Regions from separate parts of the Homo sapiens genome. Here region 1 is linked to region 2. The links come from fine-mapping of genetic effects on gene expression. A gene starts in region 2. The other region holds a variant in brackets. All regions are shown on one strand. Distances are between the middles of the regions.

Evidence for each region.
Region 1: its variant is fine-mapped to the expression of MTMR9 in whole blood (INTERVAL, PIP 0.98).

Annotation. Positions count from the first base shown.
Region 1 is chr8:11,236,401-11,247,857 of GRCh38, reverse strand. LINC00529 (long intergenic non-protein coding RNA 529) reads left to right here. Exons shown (of 5, transcript NR_170283.1): 5 at 69-594. Among named protein-coding and RNA genes, the nearest start is that of XKR6, 40 kb to the right of the region's middle. The variant A/G (reference allele first, on the strand shown) is at 5,755.
Region 2 is chr8:11,280,273-11,288,272 of GRCh38, reverse strand. It overlaps MTMR9 (myotubularin related protein 9), which reads right to left and starts at 3,457. Exons shown (of 10, transcript NM_015458.4): 1 at 3,203-3,457. The coding sequence starts at 3,384. LINC00529 (long intergenic non-protein coding RNA 529) reads left to right here and starts at 4,242. Exons shown (of 5, transcript NR_170283.1): 1 at 4,242-4,422; 2 at 6,852-6,984. RefSeq lists silencers at 3,369-3,778, 7,271-7,320 and enhancers at 3,472-3,973, 4,249-4,308, 4,399-4,488.

The DNA of each region.
Region 1 (11,457 bases), 42 kb after region 2:
ACCCAAGGTCTACTCCTTTCATCATTACAATCACAGTTATTATGGTTTGTTTTGAATTTACTATTTAGATGTAGGGGTTGGAGACAGTTGTCGCTCAAGGTGCAAACTCCGGGCTGGCGCTGTGTGTGAACAGATAACAACAAAATGTATGTGGCTGAGTCCACTAGGAAGACGCTTCTGTACCACATGGAGTTCTCTGAATTAACTTCCAGATATATTAAAATTATTAATGGTAAGTAAGAAATGTATCAAATTGAAGCTTACATACATATTGCTAAGATGCCATCATGTCTGCAGAGATTATTTGGAACTTTGAACAACAAAAGATTTTTTTTTTTTTTTGCAGAACAGTATTTTATCACTGATGTTATTTAGAGTTGCTAGCACTTGGTGATATCACAAGCGAACTGACTTTTAGTCAGCTGTGTTATTGTGTTTAAATTCTCTACAAACATCCCTCATTGCCTGCCTCAGGGGCAGGCGGCCCCTGCAGCTCTGTCTTGTGTATGCAGCTGATTTAAAGCCATGGCAACATCACAGTTAACACTATCTATGCACCTGTAAGAAGTGTTTAATTAAAACTAACAGTCTTGAAGTTGAGCGTCTTTATTTTAGGTGTAGGACCTCTCAGGGGTGAAGAGGAAAGCAAATGGAGAGTCTGCCAAGTCTTTTTGCTGACACCAGTGCTTAGGATCTTGAGAGCATGTTTTACAAATTGGGTGTTTGGGGCAGGGGGAGTCTGGACAACAGTTTTTCCAAGTTTCAGGCTAGTGTTTGGCACCCTCTAGTGGAAAATTTGAAAAGAGAATGATCCGATACTGTATAAAAAATGAATAGTTTATCATATAGCTTATTCATCCTTTATTAAGTACCATGCACTGAGCTAAGTCCTTTGTGTGCAATATCTAATCCTTACAACTACCTATACATTAGGAATATGAGGTCAGCGTTACTAATTATAGAATAAGCTCAGAGAGGTCAAGTAAATTGACCACAGCCACACAGCAAGGGGTGGAGCTGCTTGTCTTTCCTCTCTCCAGAGACATATGGAGTGAGCATACTTGGCATATGTAGCACAATATTTCAAGCTCCTGACCCCCATGGACACACTACCAGCTCCACACCTCAGAGCCTGGGGGCTCGAGGAGTGCCCACCCTGAACCATACTTCCAGAATTATAGTTACTTGCACAATTCTGATTGTAAGATCTAAAAGTAATTTTTTTTTTATTTTTCCCTTAAAGCTTGTGATTTGCCCTCAAAAGTAAATGCCTTGGCTTGGTTTGCCATATTTCCTTCTTAGATTCATGTTCCTTTGTGTCTTATGTTCTGGTCAGGTCACGGCAATGGCCTGCGATAGTAACTCCCAGACTTTAAATCTCATTGGCAATCTCCTTTACCTGTGACACCCCAGAGATCTTAGAATCGAAGTGAGCTCGTTCTGGGAGTGCTTTGGGAGTTATCCAATTTAGTGGTTTGTCATCATGGATCTCTTGAAAATCTTTGAAGGAAGTTTTGGTTGCCATGATGATTGGAGGGCACTAGTGATGTTTAGTCGGGAGGACACTGGATATCCTGCAATGCTCAGGACAGGTCACACAAGGAGAAATTGACCCAGGACTGGTAAGACTTTCCATCATCCTACCGGACATGCTGAGACAGAAGGCAGGCTTCAACTTGTGGTGGGATTTCAAGTTCAGAGACACATTTGCTGTGATGTGTCATTATTACTGCCACATCCCATGTCGTAACAGCAGCCCCTTTGGGGTAAGCAACGTGTGTTCATCCATTCTCACACTGCTATAAAGAACTACCTGAGACTGGTAATTTACGAAGAAAACAGGTTTAATTGACTCACAGTTCTGCAGACTTAACAGGAAGCGTGGGTAGGAGGCCTCAGGAAACTTATAATCATGGTGGAAGGTGAAGGGGAAGCAAACAAGTCTTTTAAACCATCAGATCTTGTGAGAACTCACTATGGTGAGAACAGCAAGGGGGAAACCCACCCCCACGATCCAATCACCTCCCATCAGGTTCCTACCCAAACATGTGGGGATTACAATTTGACATGAGACTTAGTGGGGATACAGAGCCAAACCATATCACAAGGCCCAAGTGTCAAAGCATGAGAATTCAGAAAGTAAAAGACATGGTTAATATACTGCCCAAGTATTCACATACCGAAATACATATTACTGTATTATAACTTACTTTTACTTCAACTTCTGATTGATTTACATTTTTTTCTTTTAATTTTTGAGACAGGGTCTTGTTCTGTCACCCAGGCTGGAGTGCAGTGTTGTAATTTCAGCTTATTGCAGCCTCGACCTCCTGGGTTCAAGTGATCCTCCCACCTCAGCCTCCTGAGTAGCTGGGACTACAGGTATGCATCAGCACACCCAGCTAGCTTTCATATTTTTAGGAGATGGGATTTCGCCATCTTGCCCAGTCTGGTCTCAAACTCCTGGGCTCAAGTGATCCGCCCACCTTGGCCTCCCAAAGTGCTGGGATTATAGGCATGAGCTGCAACATGCCAATGACATAGAGTTTGTGTTCCATGTTTTCGTTCAACTGAGTCAGCACACTCTTCATTCATTCCCTAAATCCTTCTGCCTCTCCATTACCTCTTGTGCTTCTTCATCAGTCAAATAGGGGCGGTGGTTTGTTTTCTGCTTTTTCTATCCGCTGAAGATCCCAACTTCTCCATAAAGGCTTTCCTGATTAACTAGCAGTGAGATCGTCATTCTCTCCCATGTACTTCACCTGGGCCTGTGGATGCCCTCAGCCAGTACTTCTCAAGTTTCCACGGGCTTGAGAATCCACTGGGGACTCTGTGAAGATGCAGGCTTGGTGTGTCTACAAGTCCCCAGGAGGTGCTGAAGCTTCTGGGATGGAGACCATATTCAAAAAGCAAAACTCTCAGATTAAACCGATGGTTCCCAAACCAGGTTTTTCATCACAGGGACCTGGGCAACTTTTGAAAAATACCCTCCCGAGCCCACGCCAGACCCATCCTATCGGAATCTCTGAAAGCAGAGCCCTAGAATGGGATTTCTAGACGCACTCCAGACAATTCTGGAGGCACTCTCCCAAACACCAGCCTCTGACCTAATGCTTAGGTGAACTGCAAGGTGTTACAATAACTTAATTTGAAATTCGCCCCCAGAAGTAAGCACTTTGCAGACTGTTGCTAACCTAGAGTCATTGTGACATGTTTTCATGCTTAGGCCAGACTCCAGGAACTATGCTTTCTCAATTACAGAACCAAGGCAGATGGGCAAATGATCTACAACGATCTTGTGATTTTAATGTCTTATATACGTGTACTTATACATCTCCTAAGATGATCGTAGTAGTTTCCAGAAACCCAAATTAAGACATTTTACTGCAACAAGATTTAAAAACTAGGGCTTTGACGTCTATTTTATGAGAAGTTCATATTTGCATAATTAGGAGTGTCCTACACTTTCTTGGGCAGCACGTGTCAGTCAACAGCTGCAAGTCATTCTGGCTCCTTGCCCAACGGAAGAGAGAGCATTGCTTAAAACAGTCTCTGCCCTACCTCCAGAGAATGTGATAGAAAGCGAGTGACAGACTAAGAGCAGAGGCGAATCCCCAAATTAGATGCCCTTCCAAGCTACAAAAACACTTTAACAACTTTTCCAAAAGATCAGAGCAGAGCATCACAGAGATGAGCTGAGCCACCTGCAGACACAGTTTCTCCAATGTGACCAAGAAACGACATCTGGGTCTTCCTGATGGAAGATGCACACAGGCTGCTGAGAAAACTCTGGAGATGCCTCTGACAGGAACAAGAAGTTCCAGAAGGCAGAGTCTTCCCTCCTCCCCAGGCTGCCTCGTGGGCAGAGATGTGCTGTGTCTTCAGGCCCACATGTTCCCCCAAAGAAATGCTCCCTTTATTTGAGAAGACAAGTGAATGTTGCTCAGGTTGGGGGCAGGGGTTATGGGCTCAGCTTGATCCTAAGTGCCATCAGGCAGGGCCAGGTGTGTTTGGTTCCCCCCATCTCCCCAGCACCCCCTACCATGCCTCACTCACAGCACCCACTCGGGACACTTGCTGACTGACTGACCAGCTATGTAGTGAGATGCTTTTAAACTCTGGAAGTGCCTTAGCTGATATGCTGCCCAGCTACCTTGGATTAACCGAGAGGGCAGAAGGCTGAGTGATGATGTCAGGCAAGGTGTTTGGTTAGTTTTCCACATTCTTCTGGAGTTAGGTCTTCACAGTGAGGTGTAGTTTTTGTGTGATGTCGTATTAAGCAAGCCTTTTTATTCTGAGGCTTGGCCATATTGGGGACTTGTTGATGCTGGAGGGACTGCCCCACCCAGGGTTAGCCAATTCTTAGTGGAAGCAAAGAGCTCTTCTGTGAGCATGCCTTTGACATGCGAACCAAGCCACCCAGACCCCACCTCCCAACCACCTCCTTTGTGGGGCTCCTGCACTCTGGGCCACCATCACTGCAAGGCTACGTTCCAGGCAACTAGGAGCAGCCTTTATGCCCCAGAGCCCACTGAAAGGATTCACACTAGCCAATCCTGAGCCTGCTCACCTGCCTCACCTATTCTTTCCTGCAGAAGTCACAGTAAAGGCTATTACCCACACTTCTCCTCTCTACCTTTGCCTCCTGGTCAACCCCAGTGCTTCTCCATGTGTCCCCCACTCCCACCATCACGTGGTGTGGCATGCCTTGCCCCTTCTCTTGGGAACTGTGAGTAACAAACTATCTTTTCAATGGCAGTTGCCTTCTGAATCATGTTGAAACCTACATTTCACAATAGACATATTGTCAAGTTCCAGGACACCAGATATTTATGTTTAAGTGTAGGTCCCAGGACCATTTCCATTATCTAGAAGGAATATTTCCTAGGGATAATAAATAGCATAGCTTATTGAAACGGATTAGGGGCCAGTGTCGATCAGAGTTCAATCAGAGAAGCAGAGGCACTAGCATACACATCTCACTAGATACACCACCAGGGTACTTGTATGGCAAGCAGCCTTGTAAGAGAGCAATAGGGTTTCCATCAGCAGCAAAGGGCAGGCTTGTTTACTGTCTAAAATGATAAAGATTTCGTCTCCCTCCAGAGCAAAGTTCATACAAGCTTACTGCCCAATATAAAAGGCTTGGGCTTCCAAAGCTTGAGCTTCTTCTCTAGGAAAGTCACCCACTGCCTCTGGAGATAACACCTGGCTCTTGTCACATTAGCCTGCAGGAATTGGGACTGGGGAGATGAACACAAATGCTGACACTTGGTTACTGCTATTGCTATGAGTAATGAAGTCCTTTGTCTCTGCCTCTGTTGTGTCTTCTGCCAGCAACCTTGAAAGTGTGGCAGGCTAACTTGTTAGACTGCAAGTAGGGTGAAATCTCAAACCTTTCCCAGCTCTTGATATTTCCTAACCAACACCAGTCTCATGGGTCAGGAAGGAAAGGGGCTTGTTCCTCTCTCTGTCACTGGTCAGTGATAATGGCCTCCTTAAGGGATCACTCTACATCCACCTCTGGAGGGACAGACATCAGGAGTCCAAGCCAGGATGCTCATACAAAGGAAGAGTTGCTGATGAATGAGCCATGCAGGTCTCACTATCAGCAAAACCAGGCAAAACATGCAACTCCTTTTGGGAAAGCCCCTGTGTTCGTCTGCTGAGGCTGCCATAACAAAATGCTATAGACTGTATAACTTAACAGAAATGTATTTTCTCACAGCTCTGGAGCCTGGAAGTTCCACATTA[A/G]GGTGCCAGCAGATTTGGCTCCTGGTGAGGGCTCTCTTTCTGGCTTACAGACAGCCACCTTCTTGCGCCATCCTCACATGGCCTTTCCTTTGTGGGTAAGTGGAGAGAGAGCCCTCTCATATCTTTTACTCTTCTGGTAAGGACACCAGCCCCATCAGATTAGCGCCTCACTCTTTTTAAACCTTAAATCACTACTCTAAACGTTCTATCTCCAAACACAGTCACATTAGAGGTTAGTGTTTCAACATATGAATTTGGGAGGGGACCCAATTCAGTCCATGGAAGCCCCTATCTGGGGAACTCACTCCCAATATTTCAATGTAAGTTATTTCTATTTTCCATAAGTGTTGGCCAGCTGAGAAATAAAGAGAAAGAGTACAAAGAGGAATTTTACAGCTGGGCCGCCAGGGGAGACATCACGTATCGGTAGGACCGTGATGCCCACCTGAGCCTCAAACCAGCAAGTTTTTTATTAAGGGTTTCAAAAGGGGAGGGAGGGGGTGTCATAACAGAGAGTAGGTACAAAGATCACATGCTTCAAAGGGCAAAAAGCAGAACAAAGATCACATGCTTCTGAGGGAACAGGACAAAACGGCAAAAGCAGGACTACTGATAAAGGTTTATGTTCAGCGGTGCACGTATTGTCTTGATAAACATCTTAAACAACAGAAAACAGGGTTCAAGAGCAGAGAACCGGTCTGACCACAAATTTACCAGGATGGAATTTTTCCCCACCCTAGTAAGCCTTTGGGTACTGCAGGAGACCAGGGCATATCTCAGTCCTTATCTCAACCACATAAGACAGACATTCCCAGAGTGGCCTTTTACAGACCTCTCCCCAGGAATGCATTCCTTCCCCAGGGTATTAATATTAATATTCCTTGCTAGGAAAAGAATTTAGCGATATCTCTCCTACTTGCACATCCATTTATAGGCTGTCTGCAAGAAGAAAAATATGGCTCTTTTTGCCCAGCCCTGCAGGCAGTCAGACCTTATAGTTGTCTTCCCTTGTTCCCTAAAAATCGTGGTTATTCTGTCCTTTTGCAAGGTGCACTGATTTCATATTGTTCAAACACACATGTTTTACAATCAATTTGTACAGTTAACACAATTATCACAGTGGTCCTGAGGTGACGTACATCCTCAGTTTATGAAGGTAACAGGATTAAGACACAAGTAAAGACAGGCATAAGAAATTATAAAAGTATTATTTGGGAACTGATAAATGTCCATGAAATTGTCACAATTTATATTCCTCTGCCACGGCTCCAGCCAGTCCCTCCGTTCGGGGTCCCTGACTTCCTGCAATAAGGCCCCAAATAGCTGTGAGTGAATTCAATCCCATTCACACTCAACTTAAAAATGTGATCATATATCTTCAACCATCTGCTTGAGGGAGGAGGAGCAAAAGGCAAGTTCTGAAGAAGACAAAATGGAGAGAAGGACTTAACAAAGTGCAAGTAGCCCTTTGGCTTCCCAGGCAGGTTTCTCACAATTTTCTCCATGGTCTTTTGCTGCTCAAGTCAACATCTCATGCCATGGTGTTTTCCTGTGGAAAGCTGTTGCCCACTTTGTACCTTAGAGGAAGTGTGTGAAGAGCAGGTCATCCAAGCTCCATTCACATCATCATGTGGAGAAGGTACATAGAGGAAGTGGCCAAGATGGGGGAAGAGCTCTGAGGCAGAGCTGGTGGGAGTCAGAGCTCCAGCAGAAGCTGCTTGGAGTGGAATATGGGGGTCCTTGTTACCAAGCCAGGGAGTCACGAACATTTGTGTGGGATGCTGAGCAGGAAAGCAGCATGCTCAGACGTGTGTTCGAGGAAGATTGTGGTAGAAGTACCATGCAGCTGGACCAGAGGGTGAGGAAAAAGGCACAGAGAGAAGTTAGGAGTCTAACACAATAGCTCATGTTATGGGCTGCATGGTGTCTCCCCAAATTCCTATGTTGAAGCCTTGACCCCCAGTAACTCAGAATGGGCCTGTATTTGGAAATAGGGGTTTTAAAGGGTAATTTAGTTTAAATGAGGTTATTGGGATGGGCCCTCATCTAATATGACTGGTGTCCTTATAAAAACAGACTACGGGCCGGGTGTCGTGGCTCACACCTGTCATCCCAGCACTTTGGGAGGCTGAGGTGGGCTGATCATAAGGTCAGGAGATCGAGACCATCCTGGCTAACACAGTGAAACCCCATCTCTGCTAAAAATACAAAAAAAAAATTAGCTGGGCATGGTGGCAGGCACCTGTAGTCCCAGCTACTGGGGAGGCTGAGGCAGGAGAATGGCATGAACCCAGGAGGCAGGGCTTGCAGTGAGCTGAGATCGTGCCACTGCACTCCAGCCTGGGCAACAGAGCGAGACTCTGTCTCAAAAAAAAAAGAGATTACGATACAGCCATGCACAGAGGGATGACTGTGTGGGGACAAAAAAGAAGACAGCCATCTGCAAGCCAAGGAGAGAGGTCTCGGGAGAACCCAACTCTGCTGATATCTTGAACTTGGACTTCCAGCCTCCACAACTGTGAGAAAGAAATTTCTCTTGTTGATAAGCCACCCAGACTGTGCTGTTTCATTATAGCAGCCCAAATGGACTAAGACATCATCTCTCTGCCAAAAGAGAAAGGGGAGTGAGTGGATTCCAGGACTGAGGAGAGTCAACCTGGAGAGGTGTCTAAGGGATGCCAGGCAGCCAAAAAAAGTACACTGGGGCCTTGTCAGTAAGACTGGTGGACTAGACAGCAGTGGAGCCTGAGAGGCAACAGGTTAGTGCTCCAAAACTTGTGAGAGGGAGGCAGGTGAGAAAAGGGGGACTCGGGATGCAGCATTAACACCAGCAAATGCAAGGCTCATGAGACTGGAGAGAACCTCAGACACCATACCGAAATCTTTGGTTAGCTGGCTCCAGTCTTGCTTGGAGATGGGGTCAGCAAGGTCCTTCAGAATGCCAGTGAACACAGGTCTCTAAGTAGCTCCCATCGCGGGCTCCAAGTCCTGTAGAAGAGAAGTCAGCAAGGTCAATGCATGAAGCCCCTTGGTGCATATCTGAGATATTTTCTCTACTACGGTAGCAAAGATGTAGTGCATCTGTACTTTCCAATATATATCTACGACTTTTGGTACATTCGACAGACATCTGTTCCGTGCTCTTAAGCACCTGCCAGCCATGGAGTTTCAGATGCATTTCTTAGATAAGCGAGCTTCTTTCCCATTGCAAATCACAGAGTGACAAAAGCACAGATCCTTGCTAGGGCTGCAGGCTGCTGGCAGTGTCACCCAAAGGCTGCTTTCTAAGGAAAACATTCTGCTGGGGTTTTTTTTTTGGACAACACGGTTTCATGTGCTCATTTATTTCACACCCATGTTTTAAAAATTATTCTTTTCGGCTGGAAATATATCTTCACCCATGATAATAGATGGAAATTGTGAGCTGCTTACAGTTCCCAAGTGACATTAGCATATGTACTGAGTTTCTTCTTGAATCCCACCCCTCCTCGCCTTTTTGCTTTTCCATCTTTTTCTGGTTCTTAGGAGGAAATTTTTAAAAGAACACACTGCCTGGATAATATATCTCATACTCACCTTCCTTCCTCCAACCTTCTTACTGGAGAAGGTGGAGAAGCTTCAGATTCCAGTCCTTCAACTTTATTTTCGGCCTGTAGGAGCATCCTATTCACACCTGTGCCCTCCTCCCCCTTTTCCTGACTTTGCCTAGCCAGCCCATACCTTCTCCTGCCTGGACAATTACAATGTCCTTACCTTCTCCAAGAGGCCCTGCAATCTTCAGTGTTTCCTTATAATCCATCATCCACACTGCAAACAGAGGTATCTCTCTAAAATTGTAAACTGGGTTGTGTTAAATTCTACTTCATGCTTCGGTGATCCTGTTACCTACAGAATACATCCAACCTCCTTACCACCATACTCATCTCTCACCCTCCTGCCATTTTACTCCAATACTGCATGTGATTTCAAGTCATTCTGCTGAGGCACATGGTTCTTTTCTCTTCCCCAAATACCCTTTTCTTCCTTGTCCAGCTGGCCCACCCCCAGTCACTCTTTGGGTCATGGCTCAAGCGTTGCTTACTCTTGGAAACATCTCAGCCCTCCTAAGCTGAACTGATCACTTCATCAGAGGCTCCTAGACAAACCCTGGCATGTGCCCCTGCGTGTCTCCAATGTCTGCCGCCTTGATGTCACCTGCTTGACCAAGTACCTGGCTACAAGGGCTGACATTCCTCTTCTTTGCAACTCCAGCATGAGCCCAGTGTTGGGCTCAAAGTAGACTCTTTTAAAATATATTGAGGCCAGGTGCAGTGGCTCATATGTGTAATGTCAGCACTTTGGAAGGCTGAGGTGGGAGGATAGCTTGGGTCAAGGAGTTCAAGACCAGCCTGGGCAACATAGTGAAACCTTGTCTCTACAAAAAATAAAAAAAATCAGCCAAGCATGATGGCACATGCCTGTAGTCCCAGCTACTCAGGAGGCTGAGATGAGATTATCGCATGAGCCCAGAGTAGTTCATGATTGCAGTGAACTGTGACCATACCACTGTATTCCAGCCTGTACTCCTGGGTGCCAGAGTGAGACTCTGTCCCCCAAAAAATAAATAAATAAAAATAAAATAAACTATTTGAATGAAAAAGATACATTGAAATGGTTTAGGTGGCTGATGGCAGTCGTAGGTCCTACTCTCTGTGTTTATTGGAAGGGTCACTCCAATTAAACAAATACTGATGGACCACTCATTCTGTGCCAGGTTCTCTCTGAGTACTGAAGGTACCCAGATGAACAAAACATCATTCCTTCACTGAGTGAGCACACACCTGAGCAGTGAAGACCAGCAAGGAATATCAATAGCACAAAATGATAGCTGCTATACTTATAGGAGCAGAATACCATGCCAAAGGCTCCCGAGCATAGCTGCACATCCAAATCTAGGAGTTTTAAAAAAATGTATGTCTTGATCTTATTGTTTATGTATTACTGCTTCACAAATTACTCCAAAACTTAGCAGCTTGAATCACAAACCTTTATTATATCACGACGTTGCTGTGGGTCTAGAGTGTGGCAGCAGTTTTCCTAGGTGGTGTTAGTATTGACACTGGGATTTCTCATGAGATTGCAGTCAAGATGTCAGTAGGGGCTTCTGTTATCTGAAGTCTTGACTGGGGCTGGAGCCTCTCACATAGCTGGCGAGGTGGTGCTGGCTGTTGGCAGGAGACCTCAGTTCCTCACCACGCGGACCTTTCTATAAAGCTTCTTGTGTGTCCTCATGATATGGTGGCTTTCCTCAGAGAGAGAGAGAGAGCAAGATAGAAGCCAAAATGCCATATATGGCCTAGATCCAGAAGTCACATTGCATTGTTTCCACAATATCCTACTGGTTACACAGGGCAGCTCTATTTGGTGAGTGAGATGGCTACACAAGATTGTGGATACTAGGAAGTAAAGATCAGAGGGAGCCATTGGAGGCCGGCTACAGCCTGACTCTTACCCCAGGGAATGAATTCAGTGTGCCTGGGTAGGGCCCAAGGTTCTGCTTATTTTGCCTTTTCTTTTCATTATCGTGGCTTTTTAACTTTTTATTGAAATATAATATACATACAGAAAAGTATACAAGTCACAAGTGTTATCACAAGGTGCATAATTTTTTACAAAAGACACACACCCATGGAATCTATACCCAGATCAAGAAACAGAGCATTG
Region 2 (8,000 bases):
TTATAATATATAATTATTATAATATAATTATTATTATTATATATTATAATTATTAATATATTATATATAATAATTACATGTATTAGGTGAATAGGTGAATAAATAATTATTCACCTATTCGCTGAATAATTAGGTGAATATTTAGGTGAATAATTATTTAATATAATTAGGTGAATAATTATATATATTATATAGGTGAAATATAATATATATTATATAATACGTATTATATAATATATATTATATATCATACGTATTATATACTATGTATTATATGTAATATATATTATATAATACATATATAATACATAGTATATAATACGTATGATATATAACACATATTATATAATATATAATACATATTATGTTATATATAATACGTATTATATATGTTATATATTATAATATAATATATAACATATATAATAAAATATATAATGTTATATATTATATATTATATGTATTATATAATATGTATTATATATAATATATAATAAATATATAATAAATAAATAATAAATATATAAGAAAATAATATATAATATATAATATATATTATAATATATATAATATATAATAAACATAATAAATATAAATATATCTAATAAATATATATATTTATTTCTGGACTTGCTTGATTGTCCATCTCCCTGGCCAGTACCTAAGCATCTTGTCTTAGTCACCACTGCAGCCGCACAGCTCAGACAATGCACGTGGAAAACAGGTGGATGTAAAGATTTCTTGAAAGCAGCAATTTAACAAACTCTGATCTGATGCCTCCCCTATGCTCTTTCACTACACCACGCTGCTTCCCAGGAAAAGGATAAATGTGTGTACAGTTCGTCATTCTCTCCTAACAGATTCAAAGGTCCATGGCTCATCTGCTTCTTCTTCATGTACTACAAAGCCCAGCACCTTGTAAATGCAAGGTAAAAAGGAGGAAACAAATGAGCGCAAAGTAACCACCATAAAAGGTAAATAAGAAAGGAAAGGTAGTTGATGGTCATGGAGAAACTACTCAGTTGTATTCAACGGCATCTGACCATTCAGCGGTCAATCCTTCTTTTGTTTCCTACGCGTCTATATGCCCAAGCCACAGTTAGACGTTTCGAAGGAGATAAAAATGAATTCCAGTTGTGGAATTAACAGAAGAATTTGTGAAGGAGGTAGCGGTCGAAATGGTTAAACTGAATACTCATAGACAGGTAACAGGCTCATTGCCTGTGAACTCCTGAAAGACAAGAACTGTAACATATTTTATTTACCTTGGTGTCTTAAATGCCTAACAAAACGTCCAGAACATAAAGGCATTTGGCAAATGTTAAACAAACTTGGGAGAGGCAAGGCATTCCAGCAGAAGGAAGAAGTCAATAAAATACACAGATGACAGAATACAGGACATATACCAGCACCAGTAAATAGTGAGGACTGGCTGGTAAAAAGCGTTCATGAAAGCAAGTGCAAGAAAGGCTCGTTAAAAGAAATGGCAAGAAATAAAGTGAGAAAGTAGGATAGGGCCGAGACACAGAATGCCATGAATGACTGAGGGGTTTAGATTTTCAATGAGAGACCACTGAAGACTTTTTTTTTTTTTTTTTTTTTTTTTGAGATGGAGTTTTGCTCTTGTTGCAAAGGAAGGAGTGCAGTGGCCCGATCTCGGCTCACTGCAACCTCTGCTTCCAAGGTTCAAGCGATTTTTCCGCCTCAGCCTCCTGAGTAACTGGGATTACAGGCACCTGCCACTATGCCCGGTTAATTTTTTGTATTTTTAGTAGAGACGGGCTTTCATCATGTTGGTCAGGCTGGTCTCAAACTCCTAACCTCAGGTGATCCGCTCACCTTGGCCTCCCAAAGTGCTGGGATTACAGGCGTGAGCCACCGTGCCGGGCCCACTGAAGACTTTATACAGCAAAAGGTGGCTTGAGGAGACTAATAAGAGCCCCCTGCTCATATCAATCAATCAATCTACCATGGCTTCACCCAAACTGCCTGCAATTCTACCATTAGAAATTTTTATTTTAGGCCAGGCGCAGTGGCTCACGCCTGTAATCCCAGAACTGTGGGAGGCCTAGGCGGGAGGATTGCGAGGTCAGGAGTTCAAGACCAGCCTGGTCAATATGGTGAAACCCCATCTCTACTAAAAAATACAAAAATTAGCCGGGTGTGGTGGCGCGTGCCTGTAATCCCAGCTACTCGGGAGGCTGAGACAGAAGAATCGCTAGAACCTGGGAGGTGGAGGTTACAGTGAGCCGAGATTGGCCACCGCACTCCAGCCTGGGCAATACAGTGAGATTTCGTCTCCAAAAAAAAAAAAAAAAAAAAAAGAAAGAAAGAAAGAGATTATTATTTTAAGGCATATCCTCTGTACGAATCTTCCTAATATCCAAATTATCCTGTGAGGCAATAGAAAATGTTGTCGTCATTCATTTATACTTCTGTGTAAAACGGATAATCAGTTTGCCCTCTCCTGGCTAGCGAGTAGCCACTAAGGAGATGGGAATTTTGAATGCAGATGAAAGTTTAACTTTTTGACTTCGAGGCACTGCCTTGGAAAGATAAAGTCTGGAGTACAAAAAGAAAAAAGAGGTTAACTGGTCCATGCCTTTCCTTGAGAGCCAACCCTGTTCTTTCAGCAAGCAGAATTGAGTAAAGATGAAGAGAAGACATCAGAATCTCCCTTAGTGAGAATTAAATTTTGATGACCCAGAAGGTAAGAAATAATATGATACACTGAACATTTTTCAGAAATTAAAAAAATGGTTCTGTAGCATGTAGACACTCATAACTTTATAATCTGTTTAGTTTTCCTCAGAAATGGTAAAGACTTTACCTAAATCACATCCAATCACTTCATGAACGGTGACTGACAATACCAATTCAAGGAATACGATGGGGCAAGAAGAAGAAGAAATTTATAAAGACAATGCCGAAAATCCACCCAAATGGTGTTACGAACCAGAAATGATCATCAGGATGGTACCAGCCACACGATAACCCTGAGAACTCCATCCAGGTTTAATGGAAACCGGGTCCTCCATCTGGACGGGTTTCAGCTTGGTAAATCCTGATTCTAGGCCACAGAGGGCTCATCTTGCCGGCTAGCTGGGCGGCAGGCTGCGCGGAAAACGCCAGGAAGTATTTCCCGGGGCGCCCACAAGGGACCCCCGGCTCCCTGCGGAGCTGGGGTGGGGCGGGCACTCACCGCTTGTCGATGGCGTCGATGTTTGAATGGAGGAGCCACAGCTCCTCCGTATTGTCCTGCCGGGAGGACAGGATCAAGTGGTGGCCCGTCAGGCACAGGGTGCCCTCGACAGCCGGGTAGAAAGGCCGGTGCAGCACCACATTGTCCACCCGCGGGGTCTTAATCAGCTCCGCAAACTCCATGCTCCCCCGCGGCCGGAGCCAGGGAACCGAGCCCGGTAGGTGCGAGGCGGTTACCCCGCCGCAGGGAAGTAGCGGAAACACCCGGCGCGGGGCTGGCCCGTGGGGCGGGGCGGGCCGGGCGGTGAGGCTGGGCCCGCCCCAGGCTGGGTGGGCGCGGCGAGGCCTACAGCCGCCGGCACCGGCCGCGGGGAGACAGGGGCTGGGGCTGGACGAGGCCCAAGCGCCTCTCCCGCACCGCGCGGTTCACCAGGCCTAGGACTCGGCCACAGAGAACCCCTCTCCACAGGCCCAAGGACCGCCGCTGCCGTTGGGCTCCGGGTCCCGCGTTGGCAAGCGGAGGGCAGTAGGAGAAAGCCGCCTCAGAATCCGCTTCCACGCCCTGGCCGCTAGGGACTCCTAGCGGAAGTGGCTACTCGCTGCTGGAGCCCACAACAACTCCGGGCGGAAGCAGCAGGTCTCGAAACTCGGAAGACGCGGAAGTCGCAGCCGGAAGTTGGTCCTCGCTAGGTCCTCTGGAAATGCCTCCGGAAACACAGCCAGACCAGAAGATGTGTGTTCCTACGAGAAAAAAAGCTTGTCTTTGCCTTCACGCCCTCCCGCTGCCTTTCTTAACCACCTACAAATATTCCTTATCAGAAGAGGTCCGGGAAGAGGGAGGAGGTCCCTGTCTTGCCTTCCTCCGCTTGAGTAGTATCCCCTCCAGAAGCTCTTCAGAGCGTGGGGCTGCTGTAAATTGTGATAATTGTTATGCATTAGCCCTGAAGACATGGCAAGTAGGGGATGGAGGCGGTGACTGTGACCTTACGGAATCCTCCAGGGGTCAGGGAGGGACACAGGGCCACTCCACAGGCTCTCCGAGAGCGCCGCGCCACGAGGTGTAACCTGGAGCAAGAAAGAGGAAAAACAGGAATACCTGTGAGAGGAACCCAAGTACATGCAGTGCACAGAAGAGCAAGTCACTTGACTTGCTGGCGGCCACCCCGTTAATCTGCAGCAGAGCCTGGACTTCAGTCTGCATCTGTGAAACCCAGCGCATGGGTGCGTTGGTCACCACCGCACAGCCTCCCCGTCAGACACCCACGTTTCGCCAAAAATTTATTCAAATAATTACTCCTTTGCTTGTTCCTTTCCCACCGCCCACTTCTGACATTTTTATTCAAAAGTAGGAAATAGAAGAGAAATATGTTTGAGTGCTGGTCTGCTGTGACTTCATTGACCTTTTAAATCCTCACCATCTAGTACCTAAGCACAGCGAGTTGGACAAACTCTCACAGTATTCACAAAGTAAATTGCCACAACCTCATCAGCTCATCCAACACTTGTCCATGCTTTTGATTTTGTCCTTCTTAAAATGTACCCTTCTTAAAATAAACCACTTTATAGACTTGTTTTAAGTGAGATACGTAAATGCCTACCAACTTTCCTTGGTGTCTTTGTTGCATAGTTACTGTAGACTGAATAATAGTTGCCATTTTTTATATTTTTGCAGTTTAATTGCTTTCGTCCAAATAGATGGAATCACTTCCTTTGTAATATATGAAGTGTTTTAATTCATTTTTATAACTAGCATTCCTGACAGCACAGGTATCCACCCCCTGAAGTTCCCATTCTATAGAACAAAATAGCAAATAAGTATTTTTTTTTTGTTCCATAATGGACACCCAGTATACACCCAGTATACACAGGGACACCGCATACAGGGAATCAGCTTTATTTTACAACAGAGCTTCACTTTACCCCTCTGGCAATTAATAGATTCTGGGTATTTATTAAGAACTTTAAATTTAATGCAAAGACTGTTAAATACCACCAGCTCAGCTCTGGCAAAGGACTGTTGGCTTTGTTTATCTCCTATCTTCATCCAGATACACTGCCATCCCTATCCCAGCCCGATCTTGGGTCCTTGAAAAAAATGACCTATCATTCCAACTACCAGGGAGGAACTCCCTTTGAATTAATGAATCTGGATGACTTATAAGACTTCAAAAGTATGGAAATGACAAAGGTTAAAATGACAGGATGAGCAGTAAACCCTCTCCAGTCCAATCAGAGCAACCTTTTTGAGGGTGCATTCCCACAGAAACCCATTAGGGGCCCAACATCAACATACACAGAGCTAAAATTCCAGATGCCACTTTGTATTGAAAGAAGCCAAAATTCTGTTCAGGTCGTGGGAACTTGAAGTCTTCAATGCAACCACACCCCAGAAATTAACCCTCACACAATCATGTAAGCTATGCAATTAACCAAACTGCATCGTTTAGAAAACCTGTATGCTTTTCATGGAAACCATCCCTAGTTAAGGGCACTTTAAAGGATGCACAGTCTAAGTACTGTGAAGGTGGGCCCACTAGCTGGGTTGACATTTTCGCTTGGCCACTTTAGTAGGAAACTTAACCACTTGGGAAAGTGAAAACAACAAGCTAACCCACATGTTCACCATGGAAAACAATTTTTGTCTTGAAAAACAAGGAACCTTTTCCCTGTGCAGCACCAGTTCCTACTGTGTTTACCAGCCAATTGGACTGGAACCTGTACACTTGGTTTTTAGCCTCCGAAATCAATATAGCTCCCGGCCGGGCGCAGTTTCTCACGCCTATAATCCCAGCACTTTGGGAGGCCGAGGCAGGCGGATCACCTGAGGTCAGGAGTTCGAGACCAGCCTGGCCAACATGCTGAAACCCTGTTTCTACTAAAAATACAAAAAATTAGCCGGGTATGGTGGCGCACACCTGTAATCCCAGCTACTCTGGAGACTGAGACAGGAGAATCACTTGAACCCTGGAGACAGAGGTTGCAGTGAGCCAAGACTGAGCCACTGTGCTCCAGCCTGGGTGACAGAGGGAGACTGTCTCAAAACAAACAAACTATATATATATGTGTATATATATATATATATTTAGAGAGAGAGAGGGAGAGCTCTCAACAACCAATCCCTCATTATACCTTTAACTGCAACCGCCAGACACAAATGAGCAATCCAACTCAAACGCCTTTTTGTTGGGCTAGGAATAACAGTGAGAGCAGGAACGGGAGTTACCGGGCTTGCAACTTCCCTATACTGTTACCAGCACTTTCCAAGGATTTTGTGGAAAGCTTGGATGACATTGCCCAAAGTATCGTCACAACACAAACTCAAACAGACTCCTTGGCAGCAGTTGCTTTACAAAATAGAAGGGGACTGGATCTCCTAACTGCTGGAAAAGGTGGCTTATGTCTTTTTCTAGAGGAAGAATGCTGTTTTTATGTCAACCAATTAGAATTAGTAAGGGATGCCACCCAGAAATTAGCTGACCAGGCTTCTAAGATACGACAACAGCTGTCCAAGTCGTGGTCCTCCTGTTCAAAAATGCTAATTAGGGGTTCATGAGTCCTTCCTCTGACTGGCTCGTTGTTAATTATACTTGCCTTGGTTTTTGGACCATATTTATTAAATACATTAACCAAATTAATTTCCTCTCGCCTAGAGACCATCAAGCTTCAGATGATCATGCAACAAGGTTTCCAGCCAGTTCAGGTGAAGACACCACTACTGGCCATCAAGAAGCTACCCTGTATCCACTAGACAGAGCAGAGTGAGAGTTCTGTGATCCCAAATAGGTAGGCACCGCACCCCAAGTCAGCATGAAGCAGTTACAGAAGAAAGACCATTGGTCCCTCTGCCTCCCATAAAGATTTATGGGGATCATGTCTCACAGCGGGAAAATGAGACAGGAGAATAGGGTCTAGAGGCAGGGAACCTAAGGCCAATTCTCACTGACTTCCTAGAACTGAATCAGAGGGGAAACCCCACCTCTTCACACGAATGTAACGAAAGGATCAGAGGCTACTCCCTTTGCACTGCACTGCAAATGAAAAATGGAAAGTACCTCTGATTGGTCCCCTCCCACAACCATTCAGACTGGTTGCAGGCCAAGTCTTCATGTGTAACTTTGTAACTACCGTCACTTCAGACTCTGATTGGTCACCTCCCATGATCAGTCAGACTTGTGACGGGCCACTCCTTCATTTACATAGGGTGTAACCAAGTAACCAATGGGAAACCTCTAGAGGCTATTTAAACCCCATGCTGCACGATGGCTCACACCTGTAATCCCACCACTTTGGGAGGCTGAGGAGGGTGGATCACAAGGTTAGGAGTTCCAGACTAGCCTGGCCAACCGACATGGTGAAACCCTATCTCTACTAAAATTACAAAAATTAGCCAGGTGTGGTGTGGGCCTGTAATCCCAGCTATTGGGGAGGCTGAAGCAGGAGAATTGCTTGAACCTGGGAGGTGTAGGTTGCAGTGAGCCAAGAATGTGCCACCGCACTCCAGCCTGGGTGACAGAACAAGACTCCGCCTCAAAAAAATAAAAAAATTAAGCCCCAGAAAATTCTGTAACCAGCGCTCTTGAGCCACTTGCTTGAGCCCGCTCCCGCTCTGTGGAGTGTACTTTTGTTTCAGTAAATCTATGCTTTTGTCGCTTCACTTTTTTGTTGCTTTGTTTGTGAATTTTGTCCAATTCTTTGTTCAAAATGCCAAGAACCTGGGTGATTTGTAGTCAGTACTCTCCACCAGTAACAATAATATTGTTGCACCTGAGAGTCCAGTCTAAAAACAAGAACCAACAGAG